Homo sapiens: one gene and its partner. The protein of the gene in region 2 binds, or shares a complex with, the protein of the main gene of each other region. Each region holds a gene or a part of one and is shown on either strand. Other genes may lie near its edges. A codon is read from its position in the direction of its gene.

Evidence for each region.
Region 1: the proteins of EFHB (region 2) and TUBB4B are in contact, whole or in part, in a cryo-EM structure (PDB 7UNG), measured with the Homo sapiens proteins. Residues at the interface, in NP_653316.3 of Homo sapiens: Tyr523, Gly524, Val525, Gly526, Leu528, Ile529, His530, Asn531, Arg532, Tyr537, Arg539, Asp542, Arg545, Ala546, Ala549, Ala550, Arg552, His553, Lys556, Tyr608, Asn624, Phe625, Trp628, Asp630, Lys631, Thr686, Leu687, Leu688, Ser691, Asp692; in NP_006079.1 of Homo sapiens: Asp26 (codon at 3,363), Glu27 (codon at 3,360), Asp31 (codon at 3,348), Pro32 (codon at 3,345), Thr33 (codon at 3,342), His37 (codon at 3,330), Gly38 (codon at 3,327), Asp39 (codon at 3,324), Ser40 (codon at 3,321), Leu42 (codon at 3,315), Gln43 (codon at 3,312), Thr55 (codon at 3,276), Gly56 (codon at 3,273), Gly57 (codon at 3,189), Lys58 (codon at 3,186), Ser78 (codon at 3,126), Gly79 (codon at 3,123), Pro80 (codon at 3,120), Phe81 (codon at 3,117), Gln83 (codon at 3,111), Leu215 (codon at 2,241), Lys216 (codon at 2,238), Leu217 (codon at 2,235), Thr219 (codon at 2,229), Thr221 (codon at 2,223), Asp224 (codon at 2,214), His227 (codon at 2,205), Pro243 (codon at 2,157), Gln245 (codon at 2,151), Phe270 (codon at 2,076).

The regions. Positions count from the first base shown.
Region 1 is NC_000009.12:137,236,502-137,245,101, reverse strand, and holds TUBB4B (tubulin beta-4B chain), read right to left. Parts: upstream 3,816-8,600; 5' UTR 3,742-3,815; coding exon 3,685-3,741; intron 3,382-3,684; coding exon 3,273-3,381; intron 3,192-3,272; coding exon 3,081-3,191; intron 2,607-3,080; coding exon 1,546-2,606; 3' UTR 1,403-1,545; downstream 1-1,402. Other genes in the region: CIMIP2A (ciliary microtubule inner protein 2A), read left to right, coding at 1-13, 366-460, 814-931, 1,314-1,402. UniProt on the Homo sapiens protein: Tubulin is the major constituent of microtubules, a cylinder consisting of laterally associated linear protofilaments composed of alpha- and beta-tubulin heterodimers.
Region 2 is NC_000003.12:19,930,553-19,939,402, reverse strand, and holds the start of EFHB (EF-hand domain-containing family member B), read left to right. Parts: upstream 1-5,185; 5' UTR 5,186-5,384; coding exon 5,385-6,173; intron 6,174-8,850. UniProt on the Homo sapiens protein: Microtubule inner protein (MIP) part of the dynein-decorated doublet microtubules (DMTs) in cilia axoneme, which is required for motile cilia beating.

The DNA of each region.
Region 1 (8,600 bases), on a different chromosome or scaffold from region 2:
AAGGCCATCTCAGGTGGGTGTGGGCCTGGGCTGGGCTGGAGAAGGCCGCCCCTCCCCACAAGGTTCTTGCAGTGTGAGAGCCCCTGAGGAGGCTGCCACAGGGGCCCACTTTTCCTGCTCCAGAACAGGCTAGCGGCCTGGGGGGACCTCCTCTGCCTCCCAGCTGCTTCCAGGAGCCCAGCTTTTCCCAAGACGAGGCGGTGCCTTGCCTGCCTGTTCCCATTTGGCCACATCAGACAGTCGCCAACGTTCAGGGAACGAAAGGGAGCCTTGCCTGGCTTCCCTGACACGTCTGAGGGCAGGTGGGTGTGCCCAGGGGAAGGCTAAGGGGGCTTGGGGTAGCCCGTACATCTGCCTACCCCCAGGCTATGCTGGCTTCATTCCCCGTTTCACCTGGGTAATGGGGTTGAATTACCGAGACGGCGTCATGCAAGCCATGGACGAATTCGACAAGAGCCAGGTAGGAAAGCGCCATCCAGGGCCTGCTCCCAGCTCACACACACACTTCCTCTCCTGCCTGGCAGCTTCCCTGGAGGGTGCCTTGAAGGCCAGGTTCCCTGAGAAGCCTGAGGAGGGGGCTCTGCCTGGCTCTCTCCTGTCCCCGGAGGTGCCGCCCCAACCCCTCTCTCCTGAGTCTTGCTTGGATCCCTGCACTCAAGTTTTGGAGTCGGGGGTAGGGGGATGCAGAAGGCTGGGAGCATTAGCAGCTTTCCCACGGAGTGCCGGCCCTCCGGCCAGGCCCCCACTGGGACAACTTGACTATCTGTTTGCCTGCCGGGGAGGGAGCTTGTTAGCACCTTCCTGTCTCCCCAGTTCCTGTTTAGAAACCCCCACTGTGACCTGGGCGAGAAGCTGCCTGGAACACACTGGCCCAGCAACCACATCTACAGCAGCCAAGGCCTGATCCCCTTCTACATGGGGTTCATCCCCGGTGAGTAGAGTGGGCAGGGTCACATGGACACACCCCGGCCAATGTGGGGAGGGACGGCTCTACCTGCTCACCCTTCATTGCTGGTTCAGGACCACCTGTCTGACCATTACCAGGGTCCCACCTTGGTTGGGGTAGGATTGTCTGCCATCCTCCCTACCCCTTTTGGAAGGGGGGTCACTGGACCCACCTAAGTCCCAGACACAGGCCGAGCCCCAAGGTTGGGTACCTGGAACAGGACAGGCCTGCCTTCAACAAGCAAGTTCCCCACCAAGCAGATACCCAGGGCCCAGGGCAGCCCCACACTTCTCTGAAGCCTGGGTGTCCAGCCCATGCTGGTCCTGGGCACATAAGCCCAGCTCAGCTGCAGCCTGGCTCCCCGCAGCCATGCAGGACAACTACGCCCTGACATTCGGCAACAGCACCCGGAGGGCCTACTGGAAGGAATGGGCAAAGCGAAACCACACACTATGAAAATGCTTTAATGGTGGTGTCTGTACAGCATGGATGTGGACAGGGAAAACAGCAAGTGCACACAGTGGGACAGGCCACAGGACAGGCTGGGAGTGAATAAAGAGTTCACACTGCTTCCCTGCTTTCCCCAGTGACTGAAGGCTCTAGGCCACCTCCTCCTCAGCCTCCTCCTCGAACTCGCCCTCCTCCTCGGCTGTGGCATCCTGGTACTGCTGGTACTCGGACACCAGGTCATTCATGTTGCTCTCGGCCTCGGTGAACTCCATCTCGTCCATGCCCTCGCCCGTGTACCAGTGCAGGAAGGCCTTGCGCCGGAACATGGCCGTGAACTGCTCGGAGATGCGCTTGAACAGCTCCTGGATGGCCGTGCTGTTGCCAATGAAGGTGGCGGACATTTTTAGCCCCCGAGGTGGGATGTCACAGACAGCCGTTTTCACATTGTTGGGGATCCACTCAACAAAATAGCTGCTGTTTTTGTTTTGGACATTAAGCATTTGCTCATCCACCTCCTTCATGGACATGCGGCCCCTGAACACGGCGGCAACCGTCAGGTAGCGGCCATGGCGGGGGTCGCAGGCAGCCATCATGTTCTTGGCATCAAACATCTGCTGGGTGAGCTCGGGCACGGTCAGCGCCCGGTACTGCTGGCTGCCCCGGCTGGTCAGTGGGGCAAAGCCGGGCATGAAGAAGTGCAGCCGGGGAAACGGGACCATGTTCACAGCCAGCTTCCGCAGGTCAGCATTGAGCTGGCCTGGGAAGCGCAGGCAGGTGGTGACCCCACTCATGGTAGCAGACACCAGGTGGTTCAGGTCACCATAGGTGGGCGTGGTCAGCTTTAGGGTTCTGAAGCAAATGTCGTAGAGAGCTTCGTTATCAATGCAGTAGGTCTCGTCTGTGTTTTCTACGAGCTGGTGGACTGAGAGGGTGGCGTTGTAGGGCTCCACCACTGTGTCTGACACTTTGGGCGAAGGCACCACACTAAACGTGTTCATGATCCTGTCTGGGTACTCCTCCCGGATCTTGCTGATGAGGAGGGTACCCATCCCAGACCCAGTCCCCCCACCCAGGGAGTGGGTCAGCTGGAAACCCTGCAGGCAGTCACAGCTCTCAGCCTCCTTTCTCACAACATCCAGCACCGAGTCCACCAGCTCCGCGCCTTCTGTGTAGTGCCCCTTGGCCCAGTTGTTCCCAGCACCACTCTGACCTGTGAGAGAACACAGCTAATCATTTGTCAGCCAGGTAGACAGCACTACTGGTCACCGCCATGCGAAAAAAGCCGAGTGACATGGTGTGAGCTGACCACAGAATTCACCCTGGAGGTAGAGCAAACGGACCCTTCAAAGCCAAAAGACGGCAGCCTGCCCTGCTACGAATTAAGTCAGGGGCCAAACCTGACAGCTTAACAAACCCCTCCCCGGGGGGGCCACTGCCAATTCCCAAGGACAGAGGAACAGCCACTGCCCCAGCTCAGCTCCCTGCAGGGAGATTACGTGTGTGGCGGCTCCTCGCCTCGGCAGACAGCTGGACCTTGCTCCCAAAGCCGATTTAGTAGAGGGGATTGAGTGGCTCAGAGAAGAGGAGGGCGTCCAGGGGCCCCGGCTGCGCAGTTCCCACGGCGGTGCCCTTGGAGCAGCCCCTTGACCTTTGAGCCGCCGCCCAGTCCCCAGCCACGGCTCACCGAAAACGAAGTTGTCCGGCCGGAAGATCTGCCCGAAGGGCCCCGAGCGCACGGAGTCCATGGTGCCGGGCTCCAGATCCACGAGCACGGCGCGGGGCACGTACTTGCCGCCTGCGGGGACGGGAGGGCGTCAGCCAAGGCAGGGGCCGCGGGGTCCCCGGAGGGCGGTCGGGGAAGGGGCCGGGGCCTCACCGGTGGCCTCATTGTAGTACACGTTGATGCGTTCCAGCTGCAGGTCGCTGTCCCCGTGGTAGGTGCCCGTGGGGTCGATGCCGTGCTCATCGCTGATCACCTCCCAAAACTACAAGGGACGCGGGCGGGCCCGGGCGGGCCGGGGCTGAGTCACCGCGGCCGGTGCGCAGGGAGGCAGCCCCGCCCCGGACGGGCGCGGCAGCCCGGCCCTCCCCGCCCCTCCCCCGCCCCGCGCGCCCTGGCCGCCGGGTTCCTGGGGGCTTCGGTCGCCCGGCTCGGCCAATTCCCCGCGGAGGGGGCCCGGCGGCCGCAATGCGGGGGCGCCGCCCGGCCGCTGCTGCCGCCATCTTCCCCGGCCGCCCGCCCACACCGCCCGGCAGGCCCGCCTGGCCCCAGCGCCCCGGCAACTTACCTTGGCGCCGATTTGGTTGCCGCACTGCCCGGCCTGCAAGTGCACGATTTCCCTCATGATGGCGGCGGCGGCGGCGGGGAAGCAGGAGGAAGTAGACAAACAGCAGCAGAAGAGCGGGCGCGCAGAGTGCTACAACCGACGCTCCGCCAACGCTTATATACCCTCCCTGCCCGCCTCCGCTAGTCTCGGAATGGGCTGCCAGAACGAGGCTGGCAAGCTCCCTCGTTTGATTGGCCTTGCCCCCGTCAATCAAGCTGCCTAAGGTCCGCCTTTTTAAGCCAGTTTGGTCTTTATTGGTCAGCCGCAGCCTCCTATCTCCCTATCACAATCCCCCTCCTGGCGCCGCAGTGCTCCGTCCATTGGGTGTTTCAAATGATTGATTTGCCGTCTCATTGGCTGGCTGCCGGGAGCACGCCGCCAGGCTGGCGCTATTGGCTGCGCTGCTTCAGCGTCCTGGTAACCGCCGCAGTGCCGCGGCCGGCGCGCGGACGGGGTGGGGCGCAGGCGCGAGTGCGGGCTTCCGGTCGGGCGGCGGGCAGCTGCGCTGGGGGCGCCGAGGGAGGGCGGGCCCGACGGGCCTCGGGCAAGCGCAGTCTTGGCTCTGAGCCCGGGGCCTTTCGGGAGCCGGGAAGGGCAGGCTCGGTGGCGGCCCCACGTCCAGAGTTGCGCCCTCTCTGGCCTTGCGCCGGGACACGGCATCTGCGCGCTGGGCGGGTTCTGGAGCGGGGTCCGCACGGAGCGAGCCCGGGGCCTCCAGGCCGAGGAGGCTGCGATGCCTTAAAGGCAGGAAGATACACGGGCTCGGGGGCTGCGGCGGTGGAGGGGAGCTCTCCACAGAGCCGCAGAGGCCACGGAGTTTCCTGCTCCCGGGTGCCGCACGCCCACTGCCCTCGCGGTCGCGTGAGGGGAGCACGTGGGGGACGCCGCGCCCCGAGGGCCGGGGCGGAGGGCAGGGGAGGGGAGCGGAGGGGCGAGGCCTCCCCCGCAGCTGCGCGCCCTGCCCTGTTGTGGAGACGGCGCTGGCTCTGCGCCGGTCGCCTTGGTGCCTCGGCCCCGTGAGTGCGCGAGCTCCGTGGAGACCAGGACAGCGCCCAGACCTCCCTCGGCGGGTGGGCCCCGACCTCCGGGCTCCAGGGCCGGTATTCCAACCACAGGTCAGCGCGCTGGGGCTGAAACATACTTCTGTTAATGCTTTTCCTAATTTATGACTTGATTTTTACTTGGGTGGGAAAAGAAACTTAAAATGAATTACATGTGGTTGCGCCTGTTTAAAAACAAACGGGCTGTATTTTTGCAGCATTTTTATTTTACTTAATTTATTATTCTGAGACAGAGTCTCGCTCTGTCTCCCGGGCTGGAGTGCAGTGGCGCGATCTTGGCTCCCCGCCCCCCCCCAGGTTCAAGCGATTCTTCTGCCTCAGCCTCCCCAGTAGGTGGGACTGCAGGCACCCACCACCACGCCGCTAATTTTTGTATTTTTGGTAGAAATGGGATTTCACCATGTTGGCCAAGCTGGTCTGAAACTCCTGACCTCAAGTGATCCGCCCGCCTCGGCCTCCCCAAGTGCTCGGATTTACGGGAATGAGCCGCCGTGCCTTCTACATTTTTGTAGCTTTTTTCTTTTTTTTTTGAGATGGAGTTTTGCTCTTGTCGCCTAGGCTGGAGTGCAGTGGCGCAATCTCAGCTCGCTGCAACCTCTGCCTCCCCGGTTCAAGCAATTCGCCTGCCTCACCTTCCCAAGTAGCTGGAACTACAGGTGTGCACCACCACGCCTGGCTATTTTTTTTTTTTTTTTTTTTTGAGACAGAGTCTGGCTCCGTCGCTCAGGCTGGAGTGCAGTGGCATGATCTCGGCTCACTGCAACCTCCATCTCCCGGGTTCAAGCGATTCTCCTGCCTCAGCCTCCCGAGTAGCTGGGATTACAGGCGCCCGCCACCACGCCCGGCTAATTTCTGTATTTTTAATAGAGATGGGGTTTCACCATCTTGGCCAGGCTGGTCTGGAACTGACCTTGTGATTCATTCGCCTCGGCCTCCCAAAGTGCTGGGATTACAGGCATGAGCCACTGCACCTGGCTGTATTTTTGTAGCATTTTAAATAAATTACACCATCAGGTCGGCCCTGACAGTCTCCTGTGCTCTGGCCACTGGGCATCTGTCTCCCAATTGGAGGCTGTTGGAAACAACATCTGCTTATTTATTTCTCTCTTCCTGGAGGGACTGCACCTCTGTCTTCACCACATAATGCGCGATACCAGAACTCGGGACACGCAGCACCGGAGCATGCGCGGGGATCAGCATTGTCCTTCTGGGGCGAGGGCCTGCAGCTGTGCTCACTCCTCGGGGGTCTGTTGCCAGTTTGCCATCCTGTCCAGGAGGGTGGCCTCCCCCACAGATCAGCCCAGGAAGGCGGGCCTGGCTTCCAGTGACCACTGTGACACAGGCCTTGACCCTCAGAGGGACTGGGGTCCTGCAGCGGCCTGAGGGGTGCACAGGTTGCTGCCAGCCATCCCAGGTTTCTCCTAGTGCCCAGGGCATCCTGGGGTCCTGCAGAGTAGCTCAGCTGTCCAGGCAGTAGTCAGGGACATGTTGGAGTCTCATAACATTGAGTTGTCACAAAGGGGAGAAGGAGAAGCTCTGTTTTTTTCCTCAGTGAACTGTGCAGAGCCCAACTGAGGCTGCTCTTTGAGGTGTGTGGCATTCCTGCACCTTGTCAGAGTCTCCCAACCCCTCTCCAGTAAAGGCCCCTGCTTCCTGTGACCAGTGCCCACAGGGCTGGGAGGTCAGTGTGCCACCCGTTTCACAGGTGTCACCTGCCCAGGTGAGAGCCCCAGAGCTCGCCATGGCACCAGCTTGCCTACTTTGCCCTTGCATTGCCCTGGTGAGGTGGACACTGGCTGGGGACAAGACAGCAGTAGACACCCTGAAGCCTGGGCCTGAGCCCAACAAGGACAGCAGCCACCCCTGTTGCACAAAACTGGTTGGGGAAGGCTCTGTAGGTCCCACCCTGAGCCAAGGTGCCCTGCTGCAGGATGGAGAGGCGGGATAGTGTGGGGCAGGAGGACCAACTCCTGGGCCTGGGGTCTGTGGCCAGGCAGGATGTGGTCCAAGGAGGGCCAGAAGGGCAGGGAAGCGGGGCAGGCGTGGCTGTGGGAGTGCTGGGCACCTGCCCTCCTCCTCCTGCAGCTGTCGGAGGATCCACAACGAAGGCTCTGTTTACTGGTGGCCATGGTCCCAGTGGGAGGGTGTGTTACCGCCAGGCAGGGACAGCAGGCAGACAGTATTGGCTGCCTTAAAGGACCAGACGCCCAGCCTTTGTGGGAGGCCTCACCTGCCCTGGAAGGACAGGTGCATGGGGTGCTTCCTCCCTCTCTCCACAAGGGCCTCACTGATCCCCCCCCAAAGGACAGGGGAGCTCCCCGGCCCCTCAGGCTCCCCAGGGAGCTAGCCAGGCTTGTCCCCTACAGGGGTGCCAGACGGTTCTATGAGGCTGATGTCAGGTCCACAGGGGCGTCCTAGAATCACAGGGCTGTGAGAACCAAAGCTCTAGCTGCTGGGGGTCCCATTCTCACTGGAGCCCACCCCTGAGGCACCCCTGGCTCCCAGAGCAGGTGGTCACCTCCCTCGGTAGGTGAAACCAAGGCCCAGGAGGCCTAAGAGTTTGAGGGGTGGCTGGGGCAGAGGACCCAGGGAAGACTGGGGGCCAAGGGCACAGAGGGTCTGGGGGTCATGAGCAGGGGCAAAGGGAAACTGAGGGCAGAAAAGAACAGAGCCACAGAGGAGAAGTGGCCGTGGGGCCCCCTCAGGCCTCATCTTCCTGAGTGGCTGCACCTCTATCCCCTAGTGGGGTCTGACCAGGCAATCCTGGGAGGCTCTGGGAAGAGAGCTGCCCCCCAACAGGGCTGCAGTTCTGGAAGGGAGAACGTGACTGGCCACAGCAGCAGACTCAAATGAGCAAACTAGACCTGTCCCTGATGGGACCGTCCCCTCACCCACCCGTCTCTGTGTGCCTGAATGAATGCTCCAGTTCTGGGGTAACCCAAGGCTTTCTTCCCTTGGCGGGAGTGGGGGTTGGGTTAGGGCTGTGGGCAGCTCTGGGCTAGAGGTGGCAGGAGCCCCCCCTCAACTTCCTAGGTGTCCAGTTACCCATTGGCTGGCAGACAAGCCTTCCTGTGTGGAAACCCGACCACACAGCAGAGGGAGGGCCCCCTGGCCCCCAAGTCCTCCCCATGGGTGCTGTCCGCCCTCCTGGGCCCACCCCACGGACAGGCCTTCCCGGGACAGGGTCTCATTCTCCGTGGCAGTGGGAGGCCTCAGTGTGCCCCAGCCTGGCGGGTGAGACTGGCTTCCTGGTGGGTTCTGGGAGCTGAGCACCTGCCGTGGCCCAGCCCTGCAGAGAAGTGTCCCCGAGGGGCCCAGCCCAGGACCGGCTGAGAGACACAGAGGGCAGACAGACAGGTGGTGCCTCTGGGACCACCTGGCCCTCCAAGCCGTCAGGGTCCCTTCTCACACCCCACGCACCTGATGGGACTCCAGTCCCCACCCCAACCATGACATCCGCCGGGGCAGAGGAGCTCCGGGATCCCCCACACCCTGCACCACCGGCCCTGCTCCCTGCTGGCTGGGCTCTCCCCTGCGCCCCCAGGAGGGGCCCCAGCTCCCACTGTGGGAAGTCCCCGCCCCCCCAGGCCCGCCATTCCTTGGGAGCTTCTGTCCCCAGCGGCTGCCGTGAGAAACACACCTTGGGGTGGGCGGGCTCCTGTGCCTGAGCCCCAGGCCCCGGAGTGTCCACCAGGAGGCAGCATCGGGCTGCTTCCCCCACCTGCGCAGGCGGCCCCTGTCTAGGGGAGTGAGGACCGCCACCCCAGATAACAGCCTGGTTTATTTGCACAGAAGGGGAAGCAGGTGACCGGAGGT
Region 2 (8,850 bases):
CCAAAAAAAAAAAAAAAAAAAAAAAAAAAAAAGGAGACCCAACCCAGTTTGAGTGGCAAGACGTGCTACTGGGAAGAAGTAATCCCTGGGTTGAGTCTTGAAGAGCATTTACCAGGCAAGGAGGGCAGAGGATGAGTTGGAATAAAGCATTCCAAGCAAGGGGGACAACAGGGGCAAAAGCAGAAAGTCATAAAGTAGGCTGGGCATGTTGACTCGTGCATGTAATCCAGCACTTTGGGAGGCCAAGGCAGGTGGATCACCTGAGGTCAGGAGTTTGAGACCAGCCTGACCAACATGGTGAAACCCTGTCTCTACTGAAAGTACAAAAATTAGCTGGGCATGGTGGCGGGTGCCTGTAGTTTCAGCTACAAGGGAGGCTGAGGCAGGAGAATCGCTTGAGCCCTGGAGACAGAGGTTGCAGTGAGCCAAGATTGTGCCACTGCACTGCAGCCTGGGTGACAGAGTGAGACTCCTTCTCAAAAACAAAACAAAAGCAAACCAGAAAGTCATAAAATAGCCCAGTGTGCGAGTGGAACTACACGCCCTGGGTTGAGCTGTAGTACAGGCCGCAGTAAGGTGGCAAGCGTCAGGGATAAAGCTGAAGAGGTTGGCAGAGACTGGATCACGGAGGTCCAATTTTTGCTTCTGAAGGTTCTCTCTGGCGATCCTTGGGGTGAGGAGAGACTGCAGTGGGCTAACATGAAGGCCAGTGTAAAGGTGATTGCAAGATTCCAGTTAAGATGTAATGAGGTCTAAATCAAGTCTGTGACTGTGAAGATACCAGAGATGTTGACCCACATCTCTTATTTTTTTCCTAACATTTTATGATGAACATTTTCAAACATTCAGAAAATCAAAGTAATTGTACTGTGAACACCCATATATCTACCACCCAGATTCTACAATTAGCATTTTACTACACTTGGCTTTATCACATATGTCCAGCCATGTATCAACACTTTATGCATTTCAAAATTATGAGCATGTGTACACATTCCTTTAAACATTTCATCATGCATGCCATTTACTAGAGTTCAATATGTGAACCTTTTTAAAGTTCAAATATCCATAAAATGAAGTAAATGCAAGCGTCTTAAGAGTATAATTTCATGTTTTGACAAATGTATATACCTGTGTAATCCACATCCCTATTGAGATACGGAACACTACCGTAATCTCAGAAAGTTGCCACATGTCCTTTCCCAGTCAATCACAGCCCTTTCTCCTTTCAGAGTTGGCCTTGAGTTTGGAATGTGTGAAAATAGACATTCCAGGTGAAGGGAACCTAGGTGGCTCCCTCTCCAGCAAAGGCATGGAGGCAGGTAACTAGGGAAGAACACATAAATGTTAGTAAACAAGTTCGGATGGATGCCCTTCAGTCTTCCACCTCTCTCACTACTAAGCCCCGTCTTTTTGGGTCAAAGCATAAAACATTGAAGTAGAGAGGAGTTGAGTCAAGGGACTGTCAGGCCGCAGGAGCTAACAGTCTTCAGGGGAGGAGGAGACAGAAGCACTGACAGTCACAATTTAGTGTAACAAATGTTGAATGTTATCTTGTACCAGGGTCAGGGCTATAACCAAGGGAAGGGCAGAAAGTTAGGTAAAATACCACAAATATGCCACAAGCGTTTGTTGTATGTGTGTATGTCTGAGAGAGAGAAGTGATAAGGTGAGTGACTCAGACTCTTGGTACTGGAGGAGCTCAAAGGAAAAGAGAGAAGAGTATTTACCAGCCATGAAAAGTTTTCTGGAGGTAAAGTCTTAAGGGATGTTGACTGTTAAGTGTGGTAGACATAAAGATGTTTCAGTTACAGATAACAGAAAATGTGAGTCAAGCAGGGACATTGGCCCATGTGACTGGTAAGTCTAGAGTTATGTGAGTTTTAGGTACAGTTTGATCAGAGCTTTGGTCCTGATGATCTCGGTGCTCTCCTATTTTGTGTGTGTTAGCTTTGTCTTCAGAATACTTCTTCATGGTCACAATATGACTGTCTGTAGCAGTTTAAAAATTGAGCTGCTATAGTAAATTCTTGGGCATTCTCAATACTTGAGTATGGAACATGTGCATGTGGAAGGAAATAACATTGCACTTTATAAACACTGTATTGCAAATGGAAAATGCAATGTCTTAAATAAAACTATTTAAATTTGGCACCATAAAAAAAGAACTAAGGAGAAGAATATTTATATTAACCTTCTAGAAAGTTGTAGAAAATAGTTTTTTGTGTTTTTTTTTGAGACAGTCTTATTCTGTTATCCAGGCTGGAGTGCAGTGGTGCGATCTCGGCTCACTGCAACCTCTGCCTCCCCGGTTCAAGTGATTCTCCTGCCTCAGCCTCCCGAGTAGCTGAGATTACAAGTGAGCATCACAATGCCCAGTTAATTTTTGTATTTTTAGTAGAGATGGGGTTTCGTCATGTTGGCCAGGCTGGTCTCGAACTCAAGTGATCCTCCTGCCTCAGCCTCCCTAGTATATCCTTCTCACTTTTTATTTATTTATTTATTTATTTATTTATTTATTTATTTATTATTTTGAGATGGAGTTTGGCTCTTGTCATCCAGGCTGGAGTGCAATGGCGCAATCTTGGCTCACTGCAACCTCCACCTCCTGGGTTCAAGCGATTCTCCTTCCTCAGCCTCCCTAGTAGCTGGGATTACAAGTGCTGGCCACCATGTCCAGCTCATTTTTGTATTTTTAGTAGAAAGAGGGTTTCACCATGTTGGTCAGGCTGGTCTCGAACTCCTGACCTCAAATGATCCACCCGCCTAGGCCTCCCACAGTGCTGGGATTACAGGTATGAGCCACTGCGCCTGGCCTTATTTTTTATTTTTATTTTTTGAGACAGGATCTCACTGTATCACCCAGGCTAGAGTGTAGTGGCATGATCATATCTCACTACAGCCTTCAATTCCTGGGCTCAAGTGATCCTCCCACCTCAGCCTCCTGAGTAGCTAGGACTATAGGCATGTACCACTACACCTGGCTGATTTTTGAAATTTTTTGTAGGGATAGGTCTCACTGTGTTACCCATGCATGTCTTGAACTCCTGGACTTTTTTTTTTTTCAGTCTGTCGCCCAGGCTGGCATGCAATGGTGCAATGATGGCTCACTGCCGCATAGACCTCCTGGGCTCAAGTGATCCTCCCACTTCAGCCTCTCAGATAGCTGAGACTACAGATGTGAGCCACCACGCTGGGCTAATTGAATTCTTGGCGTTAAGCAATTCTTCTGCCTTGGCTTCCCGAAGTGTTGAGATTACAGGTGAGTGACTATGTCCAGACCCCTACACACTTTTAAAAAAATATTTTTGGATTTTAAGGGGTTTTTGTAGAGTTCTGGAATCCTGTAAATTCTTTTCAAATTCTGTTTTGCTTTTTTTTTTTTTTTTTTTTTGAGATGGAGTCTCACTCTGTCGCCAGGCTGGAGTGCAGTGGTGTGATCTCGGCTTACTGCAACCTCCGCCTCCCAGGTTCAAGCGATTCTTCTACCTCAGCCTCCCAAGTAGCTGGGACTACAGGCGCCTGCCATCAGGCCCAGCTAATTTTTGTATTTTAAGTAGAAACGGGGTTTCACCATGTTGGCCAGGATGGTCTCGAACTCCTGACCTCGTGATCCACCCGCCTCTACCTCCCAAAGTGCCGGGATTACAGGCATGAGCCACTGCGCCCGGCCATTTTTGGTTTTTTATTTTTAAATGGAATCTCACTCTGTTGTTCAGGCTTGAGTGTCGTGGCACCATCAAGGCTCACTGCAACCTCTGCCTCCGGGTTTAAATGATTCTCTTGCCTCAGCCTCCTGAGTAGCTGGGATTACAGGCGCTGGACACCATGCCCAGCTAATTTTTATATTTTTAGTAGAGACAGGGTTTCGCGATGTTGGCCAGGCTGGTCTCAAACTCCTGACCTCAAGTGATCTGCCTGCCTCGGCCTCCCAAAGTGCTGGGATTAAAGGTGTGAGCCACTGTGCCCAGCCTAATTCAGTTCAAATTCCAAGCTAGGGGTTTCATATCCTATATGTGTAGAACATGACAAATATTTACCAAATATACTTTCATTAAAATCTGAAAGGTGAAACCTCAATTTAAAAAAAAATCTCCTACTTAAAAACAATGAAGTTTTAGTTTGCCACATTATCTTTAAAATACAATATGCCTTATTGTGTAGCATATCTCAAACTTTAAAATATTTAGTTTAGGCCAGGAGCAGTGGCTCACGCCTGTAATCCGACACTTTGGAAGGCCGAGGCGGTGGATCACTTGAGGTCAGGTGTTTGAGACCAGCCTGGCCAACATGGTGAAACCCCGTTTCTACTCAAGATACAAAAATTAGCCTAGCATGGTGGCGCATGCCTGTAATCCCAGCTACCCGGAAGGCTGAGGCAGGAGAATCGCTTGGACCCAGGAGGCGGAGTTTGCAGTGAGCCCAGATTGTGCCACTGCACTCCAGCCTGGGCGACAAAGGGAGACTCCATCTCAAAAAAAAAAAAAATTACTTTAAATGTGATTTAAAGCCTAGTTGTTAAAGTGTAAGTGTTCTCAAGGACTTTAAGATGTCTTTATGCCACAGTTGTCAAATATAATATTTCTAGAATTTAAAGTCATTTTTTAGCACTAAAATAACTACATGCAGGGCGGAGGTACTTGGACAAGGAAGGACCTAAAAAAAGTGTTCATCACCAGAAAGTTTATTTGTTCATCATCACCAACATTAAGAGGCCAATGGCCAGGAAGAAGCCAATTGTTGAAACCATTCTAAAACGACTGTGTTGCTTGGGAAACCAGAGAAGTTGGTGAACATTTGATGCGCCGAAAGCCACATCACTCAAATTTTCTCGCCCTCCAAATCTAGCAAAGAAAAAGAGAGAGGAAGCAGGGATAGAGGGGAAGAGGGGGAGGGAGGGGAGAGAGGGAGAAAGGAGAGAGGAAAGGCAAGAGAGAGAGACACACAGAGAGGGAGAGAGAGGGAGAGGGCAAAGGAGAGGAGAGGGAGAGAGAGGAGAGAGAAGGGGGGGCAGAGAGAAACAGAGGAGAGAGAAGAGGGGAGAGAGAGAGACAGAGGAGAGAGAAGAGGGGAGAGAGAGAGAGATTGAGAGAGAGAGAGAGAAGAATGAGAGATGGGCAGGGATCTGTCCAAGCAGGACTTGAGCGCCAAGCCCCGCCCCTGTTTCCCAGGTAACCTGATAAACAGACTCCATCTTTTCCTCTGTGAACTCGGCTAGGTGTTAAGAGGCAGGCAGGAAGCAATGGACAGGGAGTCCGAGTGAGGTTGTGCTCTTTCCTGAGAGAGGGGTTCCGCAAGGGATTGGAGGCGTCTTTGTAGCCAGGTACAGCTTTCCCCTTAGAGATGAGCGCTCTTGGAGAAATGAGAATGGGGAGAAATCGTCCATGAACATGGAGATTGGACATCCCCACGAAGGAAAGGATGATTTAGGAGACAAGAGGGTCATCATGGGAACAAAATTTCCCATGGAGTTGGGGATCAGAGTAGGATTAGGAAAAGAAGATTCCCGATGCGGGGAGAGCCCTGTGGTTAGTAATAAGTGTGAGGGAAGGATGGCACCACCAGAAACAAAATTTCCATTGAGCAAGGGGCTTGAAATGGGATTAGAAAGACAGAATATTTCTAGGACTGTCATGCAGAGGGGTAGTTTAGGAGTCGACAGTGTCTCAGCTTCACAGGGAACAAAACCTTCTCTGTTGCCAGGAAGAATGGGGTTAGAAAATGAGAGTCTTCTTGCAGGATATACCCATGAACGGATAATACAGCCTCCTTTGGGCAGGGTGTGTGGAAGTTCACAGGCTGCAGGGAGCAGGAGAGCTCCTTTGGCTAGTGGCCCTGAAGGGGTAGAGGAATTAGTGGGAAAGCCTGCTTTCGTTATGGAACCAAGACAGGAAATGGAAAAAGAGTCTACCTGTGTTTTAATGAAACCCAACACAGAGATTAAGCTTCCTGTGGAGGTGGACATTGGACTAACCCAAGCCGAGGGGCCAGATGAGACTAAGAATACAGAGCCCCAAATGGGCTTGGTGATAGAACCTCCCCAATGCCAGTTTGCCCAACAACATGAACAGAGAAAGGAGGCTGGAAACATTGAATCAGGAGTGGAACCTCCAGATCGCATCAGACCCATATACTCTGGGAAGTTTTTTGATCGGACCCCTTGCTGGCCAAGTGTAAGTTTTTTTCCACTTTCCATAGGAACTAAACTGTGTATAGCCATGTCTTTATTGAGATGATAAAGTGATAAAATTTGTTTTGGTTTGAAGAGACAAATCACAAGGATTTTATGAGATTCCTATATTTCTTGCCCCACTGGAATCTTTGCAGATGTTACTTAGATTTCTGATTCTCTGCCTCCCTTCCTAGATGTCAGCTTTGTTTTCTCTGCACACCGGTGGTTTGTTCTGATTTCTCTTTTCTCCTTTAACCTTCATTTCATTTTCCTCAAGCCTCTCACATATTGAAATACATGAAGATACATGCTGTGCCCTAATATTCATACTATGAATGGAAAAGAAAAGTGTTTCTTTTTCCATTCATTGTTTAGTCTGTGAGTTATTTGTTCTTTCAGCAAAGACTTGTGGTAGCCATTGTGCCAGGTACAGGACAAACTAAATTGAAAAGTACATGGTCCCTACCTCTAGGTTTAGGCTCACTCCAGTAATGGAGACAGATAACTAAAGGAATAGTATACAGTTATCTAAATTTATAAAAACACACATGATTCTTCCTTCATAGAAGTACACTCTGAATACAGAGCTCAGTGTAAAGATTGCACAATTCTGTTTAGAAGAGATGGGAAAAGCTTAATAGGGAAAGTAATATTTGAGCTAACATCGAAAGGTGTCAGTATTTGTCTGAAGAAAGAATGAGGTTAGAGCATTTTGGGCATAAAAAGGTATAGAGCACAACCAAAGCTTCCTATGTTCGAGAGGCATAAACAGTTGTATTCAGCCAGCAGGGTGTTGAGAGATGAAGATGAAGAAGAAATATGTAGAAGACATCTAAAGGCCCAGAATATAGGGATAAAACATATGGATACAGTATCAATGGTGGATCTTAATAAGGGTAAAAATAAATAAAATTTGCCTTTTAGAAAGATAATTCTGATATCAGTAGTTATGATGGACTGGAAGGGGGAGATACTGAATGACAAGTAGGTAGTTAGAACAACATTCCAAAGTTCTGATGGACTGGAATTAATGTAGAGTTAGAAAGAATAGAAAGGAGACTGCACTTTTGAGAGGTTTTTAGATGACATTTTAAAAAATTGCCACTCAGTTGTGGATCTACGTGGTGAGTAAGGGAAGTTGGTGGATGACTCAGGAGTTTCTGTGTTGATAATGATCTCTTTGGGTTTGGTGGCAAATGAATGTCCAGTGTTGGCTATCTTCAATATGAGATGACAGGTAAAGAAGCCAGGGAAACACTTGGTAATATGAGACAATTGATGCCCCATGGGTGTGAATGGGAGAAGAAAGTCAAGGCAAGAATCTTGGGAAACATTGACATGAGGTGGTCAGTGAAAAAGATGTCAATAAGGTGAGTTCTTGAGGGCAAGGACTATATCTTGTTCATTGTTTACCTTCATGTCATACCACAATACCTGGCTTATGGTGGTCATTCAATAAATACATGTTTGATAAATAGAAGGAAACCCGGATGATTAAATGGGAGAAAGACCAGTCGGAGAAGAAAAAAGTAAGTCTGAGACATTGGTATTGAGAAACATAAGAAAGTGTCCTTAAGTTATAATGTGAGTAAGAGATTCCACACACTGAAATTTGAAAATAAAACTCAGCTGAAGAGGTCACAGGGCTTCCACAGAATTTTGTCTGGGTTTGAAGACTTTTCCCCTTCAGACTCAGAATGTTCTTTTCTTCTTTGTCTCACACTGCTTTCTGGTTTCCTCTTTGGGTTTTCCCAGCCACTTTACTTGACCACACCGGTTCCCATTTCTGGATTGGTTCTGCAATTTACAGCTTCTGATCTGATCTGATCTCACACACATGCAGACACCAGCTTCCAGTTTCCAGCACAGGCAATTCTAAAACCTCTGCTTCCTCCCACTTCGCATACCTTCCTTTCTAAATGTGATAGGACAAGAAAGAGAGTGTCAAGGAGAGAGTGACCAGCAGTGTTAAATCATCTCTGATAGGCCTTGTGCAGTGGCACTAGCTGTAATCCCAGCACTTTGGGAGGCTGAGGCAGGAGGGTTTTTTTGTTTTGTTTTGTTTTTTGAGACAGAGTCTCACTCCATCACCCAGGCTGGAGTGCAGGGGTGCAATCTCAGCTTGCTGCAAACTCGGCCTCCCAGGCTTAAGCGATTCTTGTGCCTCAGCCTCCCAGTAGCTGGAATTCTAGGAGCATGCCACCACACCCGGCTAATTTTTTTTCCTTCTTTTTTTTCTAAATTTAATTTTTGTATTTTTAATAGAGAAGGGGTTTCGCCATGTTGGCCAGGCTGGTCCCCTACTCCTGACCTCAAGTGTTCGGCCCACCTTGGCCTCCCAAAGTGCTGGGATTACAGGCATGAGCCACCACGCCCAGCAGGCAGCAGGATTTCTCGAGGCCAGGAGTTTGTCATCAGCCTGGGCAACATAGCAAGACTCTGCCTATACAAAAAAGAAAAATTAGCCAGGTGTGGTAGTATGTGCCTGTAGTCCTAGCTACTTGGGAGAGGTGCGAAGATCATTTGAGCCTGGGAGTTCAAGGTTCCAGTGAGCTATGATCACACCACTGCATTCCAGTCTGGGTGACAAAATGAGATCCTGTCTCTAAAAATAAAGTAAAAATAAGATTAATTAACTTTGGACATTAAGAAATTACCAACATTGTTAGAACGACATA